Linked DNA regions of Homo sapiens: all the other regions are reported to be linked to region 2. Evidence: microRNA targets listed by miRTarBase, many of them from high-throughput screens and not tested one by one. Region 2 holds a microRNA gene; each other region holds the end of a gene's coding sequence. Distances are from middle to middle.

Region 1 (5,800 bases), not on the chromosome of region 2:
GAGACAGAGTTTTGCTCTTGTTGCCCAGGCTGGAGTGCAATGGTGCGATCTCAGCTCACTGCAACCTCTGCCTCCCAGGTTCAAGCAATTCTCCTGCCTTAGCCTCCTCAGTAGCTGGGATTACAGGGACGCGCCACCATGCCTGGCTAATTTTGTATTTTTAGTAGAGACGGGGTTTCTCCATGTTGGTCAGGCTGGTCTCGAACTCCCAACCTCAGGTGATCCGCCCACCTGAGTTTCCCATAGTGCTGGGATTACAGGCGTGAGCCACGGCGCCCGGCCAGACCAGACGTAAGTTCTAACCTCAATTCATGAATGGGCTTTAGATGTGCATAAATGCCTTGAGAAATTGAGTAGTATTGGTTGCATCCCAGAAGGGAACTGAGTAGCAGAGGGGCCATTGTACTATATTCCCCTTTGCATCCTTTGTTTTTTTGTTTGTTTGACGCAGGGTCTTGCTCTGTTGCCTAAGCTGGAGGGCAATGGCACAATCATTGCTCACTGCAACCTCGACCTCCCAGACTCAAGTGATCCTCCCGCCTCAGCCTCTCAAGTATCTGGGACCAGAGGCATGCACCACCTTGCCCAGCTAATTTTTGGTTGTTGTTTGTTTGTTTTGAGAAGGAGTCTAGCTCTGTCACCCAGGCTGGAGTGCAATGGTGTGATCTCGGCTCACTGCAACCTCCACCTCCCAGGTTCAAGCGATTCTCCCTCCTCAACCTCCTGAATAGCTGGGATTACAGACGTGTGCCACCACACCTGGCTGATTTTTTTCTATTTTTAGTAGAGACAAGTTTCACCTTGTTGGCCAGACTGGTCTTGAACTCCTGACCTCAAATGATCTGCCTGCCTGGGCCTCCCAAAGTGCTGGGATTATAGGTGTGGGCCACCACGCCCAGCCTGCCCGGCTAATCTTAAAATTTTTTTTGTAGAGGAAGGGTCTCACTATGTTGCCCAGACCAGTCTCGAACTCCTGGCCTAAAGCAATCCTCCTGCCTCAGCCTCCCAAAGTGCTGAGATTAAAGGCATAAGCCACCACTCCAGGCCTCATTCTTTGAGTTTTGAACCAAAGGAATGTATTACCTTCTCAAAAACAAATATATAAAATGTATATTAAAAAAGAAAAAAATGTATGCAAATCCTTGTGTATGTGGGCACTGGTATATCTTGGGGAGGAGCCATAATTTTTGCTAGATTTTTCCAAGGTGTCTCTGACCCCAGAAAGGTTTAGAGAACATTTCACTAGATGACCTTAAGAGTCATTCCCAGTGCAGTGGTGCTGTCTTGGCTCATTGCAACCTCTGTCTCCCAGGTTCAAGCAATTCTCATGCCTCAGCCTCCCGAGTAGCTGGGACTGCAGGCACACGTCACCACGCCCAGCTAATTTTTGTATTTTGTATTTTTAGTAGAGACGGGGTTTCACCATATTGGCCAGGCTAGTCTCGAACTCTTGACCTCAGGTGACCCGCCTGCCTCAGCCTCCCAAAGCGCCCAGCCCCAATTCCAACTTCCTGACTTGATGAAGTATTACAGAAAACAAAAGTGAGTTTCAGTATTTATTACATCAGCCAGTCTGGGCTGGATGCAAGTGAAAACGCACCTTGAATCTTACATTGAGGACTTGATACGGTGAGCCGCCTTCGATGGTGGACTATGGTGCTGCCTTCAGAGATCAAGGTCAAGAAATTACTCCCATTGGCCTATTCTCTCAAAGCTGTTGAATTGAGTCCTCATTGCCCCACCACTCTGCCCACTTAAACATGTCGTTTGGATTTGCTGCACAAATGATGCACAAAGATAAATATGAATTTTTAAATGTTGGCCACTTTGGCTCTGAGGGGAAAGGGAGTGAGAAGGATAGGAAACGAGGGTCAGAAGAAATGGAGGTAAAATGGAGATGAATGGAGCCTCGGCTCATCCAGAGGCCTGGGCTGAATCTCAGAAACCCACAAGAATCCTTACACGCCAGAGAGGAAAAGTGCTTCCTAGGCGTCCAATGTGGAAAGCTTCAGGGAAAGGAGAATCCAGCTGAGGGATCAGAGAAAGGCTGGTTAAGGCAACCAAACTAGCAGCTGAATGGGTCCCAGGAAAGGAAAAGTTCACATGGTTTAAAAAAAAAAAAAAGCCTCCATTTAACAAGTGGTCCCCGGCTATGATAAACTTTAATTAACTGCACTATCATAATTCACTTCTAGCCTGGGTTCCACCCCAACCTGCTCTCTCCCTCCCACTCCCTCCCTCCTCTCCCCAACGTCTCTAGTCAGGTTTCCTTAGTGAAACCAAACTGGCCTCCATGGCTGGATGCCTCATTATTACAGCTGCTGCTTCTACTGTTCATAATAGCACCCAGCAACAAGAAGGAAAGAAACGATGCTGTTCTCAGTGCTTAAAGACAGGCCCTCCTTTCCTACCTATGTGCACTAGTAATCAAGGGTCTTACAATCCTAAAAGTTCCTGAGCATAATACCATAGTGATGAAGAGACAGTTGCAGGCCGGCAGGAGCAGCTGTGCACAGAAACCGGTAACAGGGACAACTCCCAGCTGGAGCCACCAGACACAACTCATAAGGTCCACGCCCAGACAGGTGATCCACATGTCTAAATTCACATGCACTGTGCAATGCCGGAGGAGGGGTGGCTGCACCCACCGCTCCTTCCTTCAATGATAGTTAAATTATACCCGTGACACTGTATTCTCAGGCTGTTGAGCTTTACCAATTTTAAGAGTATGTGCCTTGGGAGCGGGAGTTGGGAGCATCTTAGAGGATCTTCCAGGCAAAACATGCTTGGTTTTTATTAATGAACTTACACAAAAAGCCAACCCAGACCTTTAAGTGCAATGTGTGATTGGTAGCCAGGCGAGGATGGGTTTTGGAATTAACTCTTCCTACAGTCTGCTATGCATTATCACCCCCAAGTTAATTACCCCTGCGGATGAAAATAGGTTTCATGACTCATAAGCACCAATACAACACTTGGCAGCAGATGAAAATGCAAGGACACATTTGCAGGAAGCTGACATGAATATCTATTTATATGTGGGGAGATTCTTAGAGGTGAGGCAGGCACCTCCCATGTACCAGGATTAAGAGGCTGCAGCAGATCCATCAATATTGCCACTTATCCACACCCACACACACACACGCGAGTGCGCGTGCACACAGAGTCCTGGTTTCCACCACTTCAGTGATGGCAGTGGCAAAGCAGGAAAAGAAACTAAAAGGGTGTTATTAACAAGTTCCGACACCAGCCCGGCCTCCACACCAGAGTTCTGGGCGAACCAGTGATTTGTTTCTCCCCAAACGTGCCTGTACCCATCCCCACCTCCCAGTCTTCCCACTCCTTTGATGGGAGTGGAGTGGGGGATCCAAGTTTCTTAATAGTCCTTCAGCCTTGGAGGGGACCAACAGGGCCCAGCTCGCCCCGCCCAGGAATGAGATGTGGCCAGGAATCAATTTGACTGGATTGCCGGGTTTTGTTTTGCTTCCTCCCTCCTGTTTTCTGCTCTTCTATTTGCCTCCCAGGAAAGTACAAGGTTCAGATCAGGTTTGTTTGCCTTCCCCTACCACTGGGAGGACTCCAGGCTGCTCTCAGCCCACGAGCAGGGGCTCTGCTCTAAAGGGCAGTAGTCTTCTCTCCGCTTCCCCGCCTCTCTGCACCTCACAAACGCCGCCAAAAGCTGATTAGATGAATAATTGCATTGCTTCACCAGCAGGAATGGATTTTTATTTGATGTTGGAAGTAAACCTTTGCTTCAGGAACTAAGTTTGGGGTTTCCCCCCCTCTTCCTCATCCTCAGAAACCCTCTCTAATCAACTAAGTCTTTAGAATTATTTCTGCCTTTAAAAATAATTATTTAAAATACAAGAAAGAAAACTTGTAATGAATGAGGTGAAAACTGGTTTTCCAAGGAACCAGCCTGAAGCTACTGCGGACTCTCCAAGGCTGAGTGTATGCATTTGCTCCCAGCTCTGTGGCAGTTTTGTTTTAAATATGCAGACTGATGTCTGTCATATCTAAGAAGCAAAGCATCCTAGCTTTTCTCCTAGACTTTTTCGCCCACTTGTCAAGTCACCAGCTGCACTGGGTGTCAGCCTATGTTCACCGCCACAGGGCGAGGCACCAGAAAGCATTCTTGACAATGCCATTTGCAGCTGGGCCCGCATCCGGGGGAAAATAGAGATGCTGAAGAGTAAACCGAAATCGCTTAGTCAGCAACTGTCGCCTCCCCAAGAGGTGAATTTAAATAGCCTGGTACCGAGGGGGAGGGGCAGCAAGGCAGCACAGGGCCTTTCCCACAGGCCAGCTCCCAGGGCTTTCAAAAGCACTAGGATTTTCGTTCTATACTGGAGGTAGGGAGGGTGTCGCCTACGTCGGAGTTGCATGGCCTTAGCCCTAGAAAGACAAAATTGCTGACTCAGCGCAGTTAATATCAATTGAATTTATTACAAGTTACTAAGCTCCAAGGCACATTACAGTGTTCTGTTAACTACAGAAATGTATAAAGGACAAACAGAGCAGATTCTCCATGTCTAGCATTTCGCTCTACTGTTCAAAAGCATCCGTGCATCAATAAAGCAAAAACAAAACAACACGTGTAGATCCAACACATTCAGGTCAGTAGAAACAAACCAAAACATTTTCCCCTCACAAACTTGCAACAAAATACACCCCATCCCCCCCGACACCCCCTTACCATTTTGCAAACAAAACAGAAAAACAAAACAAAACAACAAAATAAAGTGAAGACTTCAACACTTGGGGCAGTTTAGAAGGAAGCTTTCACCATTTTATAGCATTTTTTTTTTTTTTTTTTTTTTTTTTTTTTTTTTTTAGGCAGCAACACTGGCCTTGGCAAAAAAAAAAAAAAAAAAAAAAAAGTCTTTTTCTTTTGTGTGTGTTTTTCCTTTCAGAGAGTGCATAACATTTACAAAAATACACACCAGCAGCAGTCGTTGCTAAGGGCTATTAATTCTGTACCTAGGCAAACATTCTGCCACCAAATAAATGCTAACGATATGATGCAAATGACCCAACCAATACTATACTGCTTAACACAAACCAGCTTATCCTTCAAATGAAGAAGTTACATACCTTTGTTTCAAAATATAGAAACATACGACGAAAATAATGTCTATACATAAGACTAACTTTTTGCAGTTTCGTTATATTCACAATTCTACACCTTGGGGGTGAGGGGAGGGAGGGTCGAGTTGGGTTGGGGGAGGGGCCCTCAGGATTGGAGAGGAGCTGGTCTAGGGCAAAGGAGGTGGCTGCCCAGTGGTTCAAGGGTCTCTCTCCTTTTTCACTTTAACATCCCCAGCTAAGATAGTCGCGATTTCGCCCTGCATGAAGGCCCAAGGTACATTCGACCCGACTAGGGGGCATTTCTCTCCGCTGGGGCAATACACCTCGCCGGTGGCCCCCTGGGCCTTGATACTCTCTCTAGAGCAAGGGAAGCAAAATTTGTGGCTGGGGACGGAAGGGCACTGAACGAAATGCGTATCCTCCAAACGTTCGTGGCAAATGGTGCAGCAGAGGGGTCCGCTGTTGGCCATGGGGGAATCCGGAATGTTTTGGGGGTGCACTTGGTCCATGCCCGGGTGGGCGCTAGGCGGCGGGGGCGCCACCTGTAAATTCAGGTCCCCGTTACGTGATGCCAAGCGGCGCTGCCCCGGCACGGAGGCCGGCGAGACTGGGCTGCTGCTGTTTCGCCGCGCCGACGCAGTGGTAGAGTGCACGGAACTGCCATCCTTGGGCGAGTGCGCTGTGCCCAGAGTATCTGCCACCGACATGAGAG
Region 2 (6,075 bases):
CCGAGGCAGTGTGCTGTGCCCACTGGGGCCCTCCCTCCAGGACACCGGCTCCAGCGACTCTGCAGTGAAGGGGAGAGGTGGGCTGTGAGCAGGATGGGGCTCTTCTGTCTGGCTTAGCTGTTTCTCACCCTGTTCCCCCTTGACTTCCCCACCATCTTCCAGAACCTCCTCTGCCCTGGGCACTCCGCACTCTGGTGCCCCTCACCTGCAGATGCCAAAGGTCCTGCTGAGGCCAGGTGCCCAGGCAATGGGTACCTGTCCCCTCCCTCCTCCGTAGGGATCTCGTAGCTCAGCTTCCTAGATTGTGGATAGGGCGGGCTGCCCGGGGAAATGGAGCCAGCCCGTGGGGAGTGGGCACCAGGGCTGGGATACCCTCTGCCCTCTCCTGGAGAGCCACAGCTATGAGGCACACGGCCATATGCTGGGCAGTAACTGGGAACTGCTCCTCCATAGCTGTATGTCACCAGGGCAGGGTACCCTGGATGCCCATACCTGCCTTCGGGGCACATGGTGTAGGAGCAGCCCTCGTGCCCTTCCTCGCCTGCCTTGGGTGGCTTCAGGCAGCTGTAGTCAGGCATCGGGGCATGGTGATGCCCACAGGCAGGCAAGAGCAGAGGCAGCGGGTGCCCAGGCCGCACTGGGTGCAGGAGAGGCTTGCCAGCCTCACTTGCCCACCCTTCTCCAGCCTCCCTCTCCAGCCGCAGTCCATACAAGGCTGCTGTAGGCAGCGCCAGCTTCTCCTCGCAGGCTGGGCATGGGTATAGGGCAGGCAGCCCAGGGTCCTCCAGGATGACCACCTCCCGGTAGCCTGGGGCGCGGTAGCCAAAGTCCCCAGTGGCTGGTTTCCCCATCTCAGGTGGGTAGGGGTATAGCCCCTCTGACAGCGATCGGCAGAGGCGCCTCTTCTCCATCGAGGCCTCGGCGTAGCCCTGGGGGGATCCCTCATAGCCCCCGTAGGCCAGTCGCCTCCTCTCCAGGGTTCCCTCTGGCCGGTAGTAGCCCCCATTGGGAACCCCGCAGGGCTCCCGGTAGCCCTGGCGGCAGGAGCAGTGGCGGCTGAGGCCAGGCCTATGGCCTGGATACACTCCGAGGTGGGGGCCTCCGCCCACAGTGGGCTGCTCTTCGTCATCTAGGATGGCCGTCTCGCGCCCAGCTCCCCGGCCCCCACTGGCCACTCCGCAGCCTCCTAGGAGGCGATCCAGCTCCTGCCGTTCAGCAGCTGTAGGGGGCGGCCGGCCAGGGGACTCAGCAGCCGGCTCTGTGGTCAGCGTGGAGGAATGGCCTGAGTCGCTGCTGACAGAGAGCATGGGGGGTGGTGGAGGCTCTGGAGAGGGTGCCGGGGGGGTCTGCCGGGGAGGCCGCTGCACCTGGGCATAAGGACTGCCATCCAGGGGACCCCGGGTGTGGGTCAAGGAGCCTGAGTGGGGAAGAGGATCAGGGAGGGAGGGCAAGCGGGGAACAGGGAGGGAGAGAGAAAATTCATGAGAGGGGATGGCACTGGAGACAGCTGTCGGGCCGGGGGTGTCTCTCGGGAGTGGGCTCTGCCTGGGGAGGAGGGAGTGTGCTTCTCCCTGGCACCACCCCCCAGGGTCCCGCCACAACCCTGTACCTCCCACCCTGCAGGCTGCCTGCGCACCATCCACACTGTCCTCGTGGTGCTGGTTGAAGTTCTCATAGGAGTCCCAGCGCACGGCTGGCTCAGTGGTGTTGTAGTCGACAGAGACCGAGGGGTCGTTCCGTGGAGTGCTGCCTGTGGAAGGCCACTCGGGTATTGGGGAGCAGGGGAGAGGCGGCCCTCAGTCCCCAGCCCATGTCCCTGCTCTTACCTTTGATCTTCTCGGGGCTGGAGGAGAAGACAAACTCCACGGAGGCTTGGAAGGGGAACCTCTCATCTATGGGGAGTGGACAGTGAAGAACCAGGCCCCTGGCCCATACCACACTCTCCTGCCTGCCTGCCACCTGCCTGCCACCTGCCTGCCACCTGGACTCCAGCCCCAGGCCACTTGTCTCAGACTCACCAGTCCAGGCCTCGTCAAGCTGGTCCTTGGGGAAAGTGAGCTGTGGTCCGTGGATGGTGCAGGTGTGGAACTGGACTCGGAACACGAGGGTCCGGTCTGTGCCCCGGCCACCCTTGTGATAACATGTTACCTGGGAGAAAGGCAGGAGGCTGCGGATCAGGCCTCATGTCCTCTTCTGCGCTTCCACCCTGGGGACTGCCTGGTCACAGCTTCTGCCCTGCCTCGATCTCAAGGTGATCTCCCTACTCGCTCTCCAATCTGTCTCAAATTGGTGACTGTGCCGTTACACCACCAACCCCTGCCCCATCTCCAGGATTCTTCTTGTTGACAGGACCCCCCTCACCATGACATCGCCTTTGAGGAGGAGGGCTGGCTCCAGGCTGATGCAAAGCTGCTGGGGACCAGGGCCTGCAATGTGACTGTGGGGAGAGAGGAGAAGGCAGAGATGAACCAGAAGCTCCTGCGTGCAGAGGCAGCTATGCAGTCAGGGGGAGCCAGGAGACCAGAGTCTGAGCCCTGCCCAGGTGTCTAGGGAGGCTGGAGAAGCAGGAATGCAGGAGCAAGAGGGGCCCTGGTCATGAAGTGTCAGGGGCCTGGGAATAGAGCACTCACTAGACTCCAGATGTGTAGACAAGCTGCATGGACTGGTAGATTTTAAGGAAGGGCTGGAAGCCTGGAGGGGCAGAGGAGAAGGCACAGGAGGGGTGCTGAGTGGAGAGGGCCTGAAGGTGGTTCTCCCTAGGGAGCACATCTCAGGCAGACTCACCTGTGCCAGGTTCAAAGGCTGGCAGCATGGGGATGAGCACATAGTGCAGGAAGAGAGGGCTGCTGTTCATTCTGATGGAGCCAGATAGCAGCCCACTGAAGTAGCTGATATATCTGGTGGAGGGCGTGTCAAGGAGAACATAAGCCTTTTCCTCTGGAGGTCACCTTGTATCATTTCAACCATCCACCCTTAGAAGGCTCGCTCTTCTGCTCAACACTTCCTTCCCATCTTCCGGGTCACCAGAAAGTTCTTCCTTGCATCTAACCTCAATCCCTCCTGCTCCCCTCTGCCTCAAAGCTCTTTCCCCAGAGCTCTGCTTCACTTTATAGTGGCAGGCCCTGACTGTCCTTCAGGTTCTCTTTATGACTGATCTCCTCGTCTATTTATTCCCAGGTCTACTGCCTTCCACCCTACTAGCATGAAAGCTCCATGAGAGCAGGGGCTTTGTCCACTTTGAATTCTCAGCACCTGGCACGGCGCTTGGCACACTCAGTGAAAGTGTGCTGCATGAATAAGAGAGTCTTGGCCTTGGTAGCCATGAAGGGAGCTGCTCCTCTGGCCCATCCCCACCCAGGCTGCTCACCGACGCTGGGAGGGCTGCAGTTCTGTGGCCACCTTGTCCTCGCAGAATTTCCGCATGGTAAGAGTGGCCAGTGCCTGGTCCGCCCTGGGGATAGCAAGGCCAGTGTTGGGGATTAGGGATTAATCTTCATCCTGGCCTCCCATCCCTAAGCCCCAGGGGATGGAGGAGAAATATGATTCTCTAAGTCTAGAAGAAGCCCAGAGTAGTGGTAATGAGAATGAGAAGCACCATGTACAGTCACTTTACTAGTTGTTGGGCCTCAGGCAATTGTTCCCTGAACTTTAGTTTTTTCATCTGTAAAACAGGGCAACAAAACCATCTTATGGGTTGAATTATATCCCCCCAAAAGACATGTACCTCAGAATGTGACCTTATTTGGAAATAGGGCCGTTGCAGACATAATTAGTTAAGATGAGACCATACTGAAGGAGGGTGGACCCTGAATCCAATATGATTGGTGTCCTTATAAGAAGAGAGGAAGAGACACAGACAGAGACACACAGGGAGAACACCATGTGATGACAGAGGCAGCGATTACAGTGATGTGTCTGCAAACCAAGGAATGCCAAGGCTTGCCGCCCACCACTGGAAGCTAGAAAGAGACAAGGAAGGATTCCATCCCGAGTCTCAGATGGAGCAAGGGCCTGCTGACAGCTTGGTTTGGGGCTTCTGGCCTCCAGAACTGTGAGAGAGTACATTTCCACTGTTTTTTGTTTTGTTTTGTTTTTGTTTTTTTTGAGACGGAGTCTGACTCTGTCACCCAGGCTGGAGTACAGTGGCACCGTGTGGGCTCACTGCAACCTCCGTCTCCTGGGTTCAAGCAATTCTCCTGCCTCAGCCTCCTGAGTAGCTGGGATTACAGGCGCCCACCACCACGCCCGGCTAATTTTTATATTTTTATATTTTTGGTAGAGATGGGGTTTCACCTGGCCAGGCTAGTTTCAAACTCCTGACCTCAGGTGACCTGCCCACCTCAGCCTCCCAAAGTGCTGGTATTACAGGCGTGAGCCAACGCACCCGGCCCATTTCCACTGTTTTACACCACCCTGTTTGTGGCTGCCCCAGGAAACTCTACAGACCATCTGCTGCAGACTATGTTGCAGTACTAGTGATAAAAGGGAGGTGGAAGTGCTAAGCTGACAGCAAAGGACTCTCAACGAAGAGGTGGGCTCCAGGGGAGATGGGTTCCTAAGGGGCCAGCTGGAGAAAGGGCCACTGGGGAAGCAGCTACTCAGGCGCTGGGAGCCTCACCCTGCAGAGATCTTGCTGTAGTGCATGTAGGCAGAAACGATGACCCCAAGCTTGCCCTTGTTTCCCTGACAGACAGAGAGACAGGGATGAGGGTCTGGGAGCTCCAGGCTGACCTGGAACCTCCAGGCACCAGGGAACCCGAGGTCCTGGCCCACCTTGCAGTATAGTACGACCACGTGCTGTGGGTCAGCACTGAGCCATGTCTCCATGGCTTTGCAGATGGAGCACAGCTTGTCCAGGGGTGGAGCATGCAGCTCAGGCCAGCCGAAGTCTTGAACCTGGGGAGAATGCAGGGGTGCAACTGGGGCCGGGGGCCACCAACAGAGAGAGATGGGCAGGGTGGAAAGGGGACAGGGCATAGGGGTCCGGGGGCAAGGCTGGGGGTCTGCTGGTTGTCCATGATAGCCTCGGCACTTTCCTTATCCATACAATGGGCTGATACCTGCTGCATCACGTTTTGGGGTGTCTCCAGTAATATATCATGGGAGAGTGGGAAAGTGCTTAAGAGTGAAGTAGATGCCAATTGCTACTATTAATAACGAGGAAGCTGGGGGCTTCTGGGGTTGGGGTGGCTTGGTTTAATGGTTGGGCAGGCCATTTCCTTCATACCTTGGGGTTTAAGCGGGTCAGGTCATGCCTTTTCTCTGAAAGGTTGAAGAGCTGAAATAAAGGGGGAGGGCTTTAGACAGAAATGATCTCCGGCAATGAGGCACGAGGTGGAGGTGGATCCTAAGTAAGAATCTTCCTCTAAAATAAGGTGCAGGCCGGTCGCAGTAACTCACGCCTATAACCCCAGCACTTTGGGAGACCAAGGCGGGCGGGTCACCTGAGGTCAGGAGTTCGAGACCAGCCTGGCCAACATGGTGAAACCTCATCTCTACTAAAATTACAACAATTTGCCGGGTGTGGATCGCTTGAGCCCTGGAGTCTTGAGACCAGCCTGGCCAACATGGCGAAACCCCGTCTCTACAAAAAATACAAAAAAAAAAAAAAAAAAAAAAAAAAATTGGCTGGGCGTGAGTGACGCACGCCTGTAATCCTAGCTACTGAGGCTGAGGTGGGAGAATCGCTTGAGCCCGGGTGGAGGAGGTTGCAGTGAGGTGAGATCGTGCCACTGCACTCCAGCCTGGGCAACAAAGTGAGACCCCGTCTCAAAAAAAAGGTAAATAAATAAAGAAAATAAAAAGGTAGCTAAGGCCCGGCCTAGCCAGTCACAGCCAAGTCGCCAGCGTTCCAGGATTCTCCGCTCCGCTCCAGGCCGCGCTCCGGGCCCCGCCCCCACCCCACCACTCTGGTCCCGCCCCCTGGCGGCCTCGCCTCCGCTGGTGACGTCAGTGATTAGCCTCGCCCATCTGGACCCTACATCCCTCTCATTGGCGGACTCCTGATGGCCCCGCCCCTCACCAGGTACTTGTCCCGGTGCTTGGATTGCAGCACATGGGCCAGCTCGCGCAGGT
Region 3 (5,800 bases), 44 Mb from region 2:
TTTTGCTTTTAAAGCTTGCCATCTGACTTCATATTACTGAATTTAGGACAGGTACTTTGGAATTAATCATTGCTAGACCTCAGTTTCATTTAGCTTCCCTTCTCCTATCATCTGGCATTACCTACATGTTCTCACCATTTCTTCTAGGCTGCCAAGAGATTGCAGAGGAATTTCGCTCACAGGAGATTGATGGACAGGCCCTTTTATTACTTAAAGAAGAACATCTTATGAGTGCCATGAACATCAAGCTGGGCCCTGCCCTCAAGATCTGCGCCAAGATAAATGTCCTCAAGGAGACCTAAGGTGGCCCTCTTGCACAAACCAGCCTAAGGCAGACACTCTCCACTGTCCAGGTTATAACCTGGTACCAGCAGACTTTGCAGGGAAGAAAGAGTTGTTCCAATCATGTAACCTTCTGTAGGGGATTACTGAGACAGGGAAGAGAAGTGCAAGAATTGGTTGCTGGTGCTACATGGCGGCAGCTTTGACATTTTCTCTGGGTTCTACTTTATTTTTTAAAATCTTTACAGTTCTCACCATTTCACGTACCTTAATCCAATCTTTATAAAAGAGGCAGTCTAGAGAACTAGGACTGCTCAGCCTTATCCTGGAGTGGAGCATTTAGCCCAGGTCTTAATTCTCCAAGAGGAGGAATACATAGTATGGTAAGGCAAGGAACTGGGTGGAATGTCAGGTTGCCTGCCCAATGGGAGAGGTAGGGTTTTTCTAGCTTGTGTGACAGAAGTAGCAAAATCTGGTCCTCCCCCCTCCCAGTGTAGCTGTGGCTCAGAGTTTTTTCTTTTTGTTGTCACTTACTCCCTTGTGATTGAATTTTTTCTCCTGCATCCATGGCAGGATCCCCAGCCAGTATAGAGACTTGGTTGGCATCTTCTGCTGCAGGGACTAAAAGTATTTGACTGGGGCACATGTGGCTGTTGTCATTCTTTCTGCATCCCACTGTTCCCCTCCAATTTATGTTATTTTCTACCCTGTTTTTCAGTTCCATCTCTGCTCTGTCCTATAGCTTTATAAAACCAGAGTGTGTGGGGCTGAGGTCAGGAGTATAAGTACCTGCCTTAGGCACTATTCCTTATATAACAAAAATATTAAATATTTTTTTCCTCAGTAAAAGGATGAAAATTGGTTTCAGTTGTCTTACTCTATTCCAGTCTTTGCCCACTTTCACACAAATGACAAGGCCAATATGTTTTGTTTGTTTTTTAATCATTAAGAGTTTTTGTACAAAAGGTGATGGTTTTTTTTCTTCATTTTAAAACACCAGGGTGTGGGGGAGGGATGCAAACAAATAACAAAAAAGATGCTTTTGTAACATTATTTTCCCTGTTTAGAAAGAAAAAAATCACTCCAATAGTATTGAAAAGTCCAAAGATGAAATAGTTTCATTTTCTTTTCCTAAGGCTTATAAAAGGCCCCCTGCCTGTTGATTCCATCCCTCTTTTGTGTCCAGTGGAGCCATGTTACTCTTCAGTGGCCCAGGGGTTCACTATTAAAGAAAGATCAGTCCAGGTTTCTGGGCACATGGCCTAAACAGGAAGATGGAAGCATCAGAGGATTAAAAACCTTTCCCCACAGAAATGTGGGCAAGAAGACACTTCCCTGAGCCAGCAGAAGGGACAGGTGCAGCAGCATTCCACACCCAGCGCAGAGGACAGCAGAGCCCTCGATGTCCCACTTCTGCTTCCGTTCCCTTTCTAGAAGATTGAAAAAAAGGTCAAAACCACATGCCTGTGGAGAAAGTGCGACATGTTTAGAAATACTGGTAGGGAACCAGGAGTAAGAAAAGCTTTACCAGCTTTTACTACAAATGGATGAAAGACATCAGGATCCCACCACCGCAAGGTAAAGTGACTTCCCTTTTCTGGAACCCCTGTGGCACAGGAGTACCAATTTTCCTTTCCAACGAACTGGATTTCTGGATAGGCATTTTGGCTGTATGTGGACAGATAAGACCACAGTCCTTAGCCCAATCCCAGCTATACAGTCACCCCAATTTCCACAAATGATGTGATGGTACCGTATAATCCTGTAATTGGGAAATTTCACATTTTTCCTGTCCTAATCTCAGAGGTGGGAGAAGCAAGTCTAGAACATCTCCAGGCTCAGACTAAACGAGAGTACTTGGACTGCAACCAAGTAATCACTGCAAAGTAGTTCCAAGCAGCAAGAAATACCAGATTCTCATGGAGGCTACTATAGGGTACAGAATAACAACATGAAAGCAATCAACCCTGTATAAATAATGTTTCTTGGCATTTTTTTTTTAATTAAAGAAATCCAGTGTCTCAAAAACTTGTGAAAATGTGTTTAAAAAACAAACGGCCAGTGAGCCTGCTACACCATTTTGCCCATATGCCTATTGTAACTTCTGATGTCAAGAGACAATGCAAAAGCCTCTGTTTTCACAGGCCCTATTATATTAACTCTGACTTACAACTGTACCTCTCTAGAGAAAAAACAGAAAATAAGGAACAAAGGGAAGGCAGTTTTACTAGTGAGAAGATGCAAATCAAAAGCAAACTGGAAAGCAAGAGCAATAGTAAGGGTGAGATGAGGGACTGGAGTTGAGACTGCTTGAGAAATCTGGCTGTGTAGCTTTGGTTTGGGGGACTGAGGAAGAGGCTGGACATATAAAGTGCAATCTACATTGGTAATAAATGGTCATCCCTTTCTTCTGACTCCTCCCCCAGCTGGTCATCCCCCACACCACGATATGCTGCAGGCACATTTCGAGGTTTAGAACGGCAGACAAAGTCACAGCCATCCTGTAGGGGGAAAAAAAAGAAGGAAATAATTCGCAGCATCTAACTTTAGGATATGAGAAAGTGTACTTATGGTCTAGGAATGTGGCAAGAATTGGTTTTCTATAGGGATAATGAGAAAACCTAAAAGATCTGACAATCAGCCTAAATTCAATTTGGGGCAACAGGAGAAAAAGTTTCTTCTTATTAGGCCTCACCTTCTTCCCACCCAGGCCCTCTTAAAAGCTAAATCAGATTTAGAAGAGCCCATCTGGTCAACAGTGTTGCTCTTTCAGCAATGTCTTACCAAGGCCAGAAATGGATGCTGTGCCACTTACTACTCTGTACTAGGGCAACTGTCTTGTTTGCTGGGACTTTTGTGGTTTTAGCACTCAATGTCCTGTGTCCCAGGAACCCCCTCAGTGTGAACAAACGAGGATGGTTGGTCACCCAACCTTGTTTGCAGGCTACAAATTCAACCAGCTGCCCTGTTACTTACTGCTACCAGGTTGCCAAGATCCTGCCAGAAGGCTAAGTGGGGAAACTGCTCCATTCCTTTGGCTCCCACTACCAGTCGCTGGTATAGGAACCCCCCAACAACATAAACAGCAACCAGTGATGCAAACCTGTAGAGAGAGAAAGACATCTATACTTAAGAACTGGGAAATAGTAAAAACTCAGATAGGATAACCTCTGCATTTATTGTCAGCTGTTTCCTAAGATACATTCCCTGAAAAGGAAAAATGAGTAGTGATACTAAATGAAAAAGGGGGCTGGTAACTCTTAGAAAACCAGTTAGAGTGCTGTCAGTCCAAGAGAAGCAAAGGCCCAGACAAAATGTGACAGCGTGTGATTCTATGGCCAAGAATAATCACCATTAAGTATATGATTCCATTTCTCTAGAAGTTCTCATAATCTAATGAAATAATATAAAAATTGCCTAGTCCTGCAGTAGGGGAAAAAAGCACCTCCAAATGCAAATCTATACCGGCAACTAAACATTAAATCTCATTTTTCAAAAACTTGCAGTCAGAATTTTTTTTTTTTTTTTTTTTAGACGGAGTTTTGCCCTTGTTGCCCAGGCTGGAGTGCAGTGGTGCGACCTCAGCTCACTGCAACCTCCACCTCCCAGGTTCAAGTGATTCTACTGCCTCAGCCTCCCAAGTAGCTGGGATTACAGGCATGTGCCACTGTGCTGGCTAATTTTGTATTTTTAGTAGAGACGGAGTTTCATCATGTTGGTCAGGTTGGTCTCAAACTCCTGACCTTAGGTGATCCATCTGCCTTGGCTTCCCAAAGTGCTGGGATTACAGGCGTGAGCCCTGTGTCCTGGCAGAATTATTTTATAGCCAGAGGATTTAAAAAGTTATCCCCATCAATTACAGCATAATGTACACATACAATTTGTGCTTATGTACCACCATATAGTTACTGACCTTAAAAACAAAAGGAAGGAAGGTCTGTTCTGATAAAGGAAGGCATACTCACGTGACAAGTAAGATGGAACCCACACTGAGGTGGGAGATCTCTGGTGAACAGGCCAGGCTGCTATCCATCTCAAAGAGGTAGAAACAATCTTGGACTTTGCCACGCTCCTCAGACACAGGGTTAAAATTGTCCTGATGATGAGATGGCATAACACATTCAGGTGGTTAAGTGTTTTGACTCCTGTCCAACAAAATAAAAAACCCAAAAAACATCTGCTCCTTCCTGGTTCAGCAGCCTATTTTCCATGGAAGATGCGTGTCTGACACAGAGAGAAACTGAGCTCCTAGTTTTCTAATGTCCATCCCAACGTATCGTGTCCCCTCTGGATATTCTCCCCAACCTCAGGTCAGTCCTTTCAGTCTCCTCCCTCGGCTTATACAACACAGGGTGCCTCACCGCTAGGGTGTGTCGATTGCAGGAGATCATCACCACTGCACGACGCTGCTCCTTGCCACAGTGGTTGTCATATTCATCACCCCCTTTATAGATCAGCATGATCCAATTACCTGAGGAGGGACAAGGAAAATGGAGCTATGGGGTGGGGGAAAAGCAGAGGCAGATCTGGGTGGTATGGCAGAGTGGAATTGCGTAATTCATTGCAATTGGTTATAACTAAACAACCCTCATCAGTACGAACTTGGTATACCAGAAATGCCAAGCTAAACTTGTTTGCTTACAAAGACTTGTGTTCCCTTAAGACAAGAATCAGATATTCATTTAAGAATAATCTTAATTTTTAACATTAAAGGTAGGCAACTGACAATGCAAAACCAATTATGATCCATACCTTAACACTGATTCATTTTCTGAATACCTTCTAAAAGCAAAAAAAGAGGTTCCATACAATTGCTGAGCAGCAGGGGTAAGCCCATCTAAGATTTCAACTTAGCCCCAGATAAATTCAGAGTGGATATCTAAGATTGGAATGCATATCTCTTCTTTAGTATTTACTGTGTTCAGTTCTTTTGCAAAATATCATTTGATTCAGTAATTGTGAGGTGAATAAGGTAAAGATTCTGCTCCTAGTTTTGCATATGAGAAAACAAGGTCAAAAGGTGATACGACTTTCCAGTCACAGGATTAGGAAACAGGAGGAGAACCTGGTCACATGATCCCCAGCCCCAAACCCTTTTGTTACTTTTTTATTGTATTATTTACCAGGAGTAAATAGCTACCTTGTATAACTTATTTATCTGTATGGGAGGGAATTGGACCATAGGTGCTTACATGGTCCTCTCCAGCAATATGACTTTTAAGAAATATCACCACCATAGCACAAAAATCAGTGGGTAAAGTTTTGCAGACTGAGTAGTTTGCAAAAAAAAGTTTGAGCTCTTAAAATTTAACTGGTAAACTTTGATTAATTTGATGAAAAGTGGTGGTGGTGGTTGGTATTTGTAAGTCTAGTGTGAAACTCATTAAAAGTATTTGGGTGAATAAAAGGACTCTAGGCTACAGAATTCTGGCTAGAGTTGGCTGGGCGCGGTGGTTCATGCCTGTAATCCCAGCACCTTGGGAGGCCAAGGTGGGCAGATCACGAGGTCAAAGATCAA

Evidence for each region. Region 2 holds the annotated microRNA hsa-miR-6757-3p (AACACUGGCCUUGCUAUCCCCA, at 3,453-3,474, opposite strand). A microRNA usually pairs through its seed, bases 2 to 8, with sites in the 3' UTR of a target mRNA and lowers its output. Matches are read on the target gene's strand: a 7mer-m8 pairs with bases 2 to 8, a 7mer-A1 pairs with bases 2 to 7 and ends in A, and an 8mer does both.
Region 1: the mRNA of IRF2BPL is a reported target of hsa-miR-6757-3p. Seed matches in the 3' UTR shown: 7mer-m8 at 4,843-4,849.
Region 3: miRTarBase lists PHC1 as a target of hsa-miR-6757-3p. Seed matches in the 3' UTR shown: 8mer at 771-778 and 7mer-m8 at 2,296-2,302.

The regions. Positions count from the first base shown.
Region 1 is chr14:77,020,117-77,025,916 of GRCh38, forward strand. It overlaps IRF2BPL (interferon regulatory factor 2 binding protein like), which reads right to left. Exons shown (of 1, transcript NM_024496.4): 1 at 4,427-5,800. The coding sequence ends at 5,286. Among named protein-coding and RNA genes, the nearest start is that of IRF2BPL, 5.7 kb to the right of the region's middle. RefSeq lists an enhancer at 3,430-3,724 and a silencer at 3,931-4,156.
Region 2 is chr12:53,054,389-53,060,463 of GRCh38, reverse strand. MIR6757 (microRNA 6757) reads right to left here and starts at 3,520; the gene lies at 3,452-3,520. TNS2 (tensin 2) reads right to left here. Exons shown (of 29, transcript NM_170754.4): 7 at 6,023-6,075; 8 at 5,228-5,278; 9 at 4,774-4,896; 10 at 4,619-4,683; 11 at 3,368-3,451; 12 at 2,785-2,897; 13 at 2,631-2,691; 14 at 2,362-2,437; 15 at 2,019-2,148; 16 at 1,827-1,892; 17 at 1,637-1,750; 18 at 206-1,417; 19 at 1-59. TNS2-AS1 (TNS2 antisense RNA 1) reads left to right here and starts at 6,026. Exons shown (of 4, transcript NR_033854.1): 1 at 6,026-6,075.
Region 3 is chr12:8,939,158-8,944,957 of GRCh38, forward strand. PHC1 (polyhomeotic homolog 1) reads left to right here. Exons shown (of 15, transcript NM_004426.3): 15 at 148-2,310. The coding sequence ends at 302. M6PR (mannose-6-phosphate receptor, cation dependent) reads right to left here. Exons shown (of 7, transcript NM_002355.4): 4 at 4,644-4,753; 5 at 4,248-4,378; 6 at 3,259-3,385; 7 at 1,204-2,783. The coding sequence ends at 2,661. Among named protein-coding and RNA genes, the nearest start is that of M6PR, 7.6 kb to the right of the region's middle.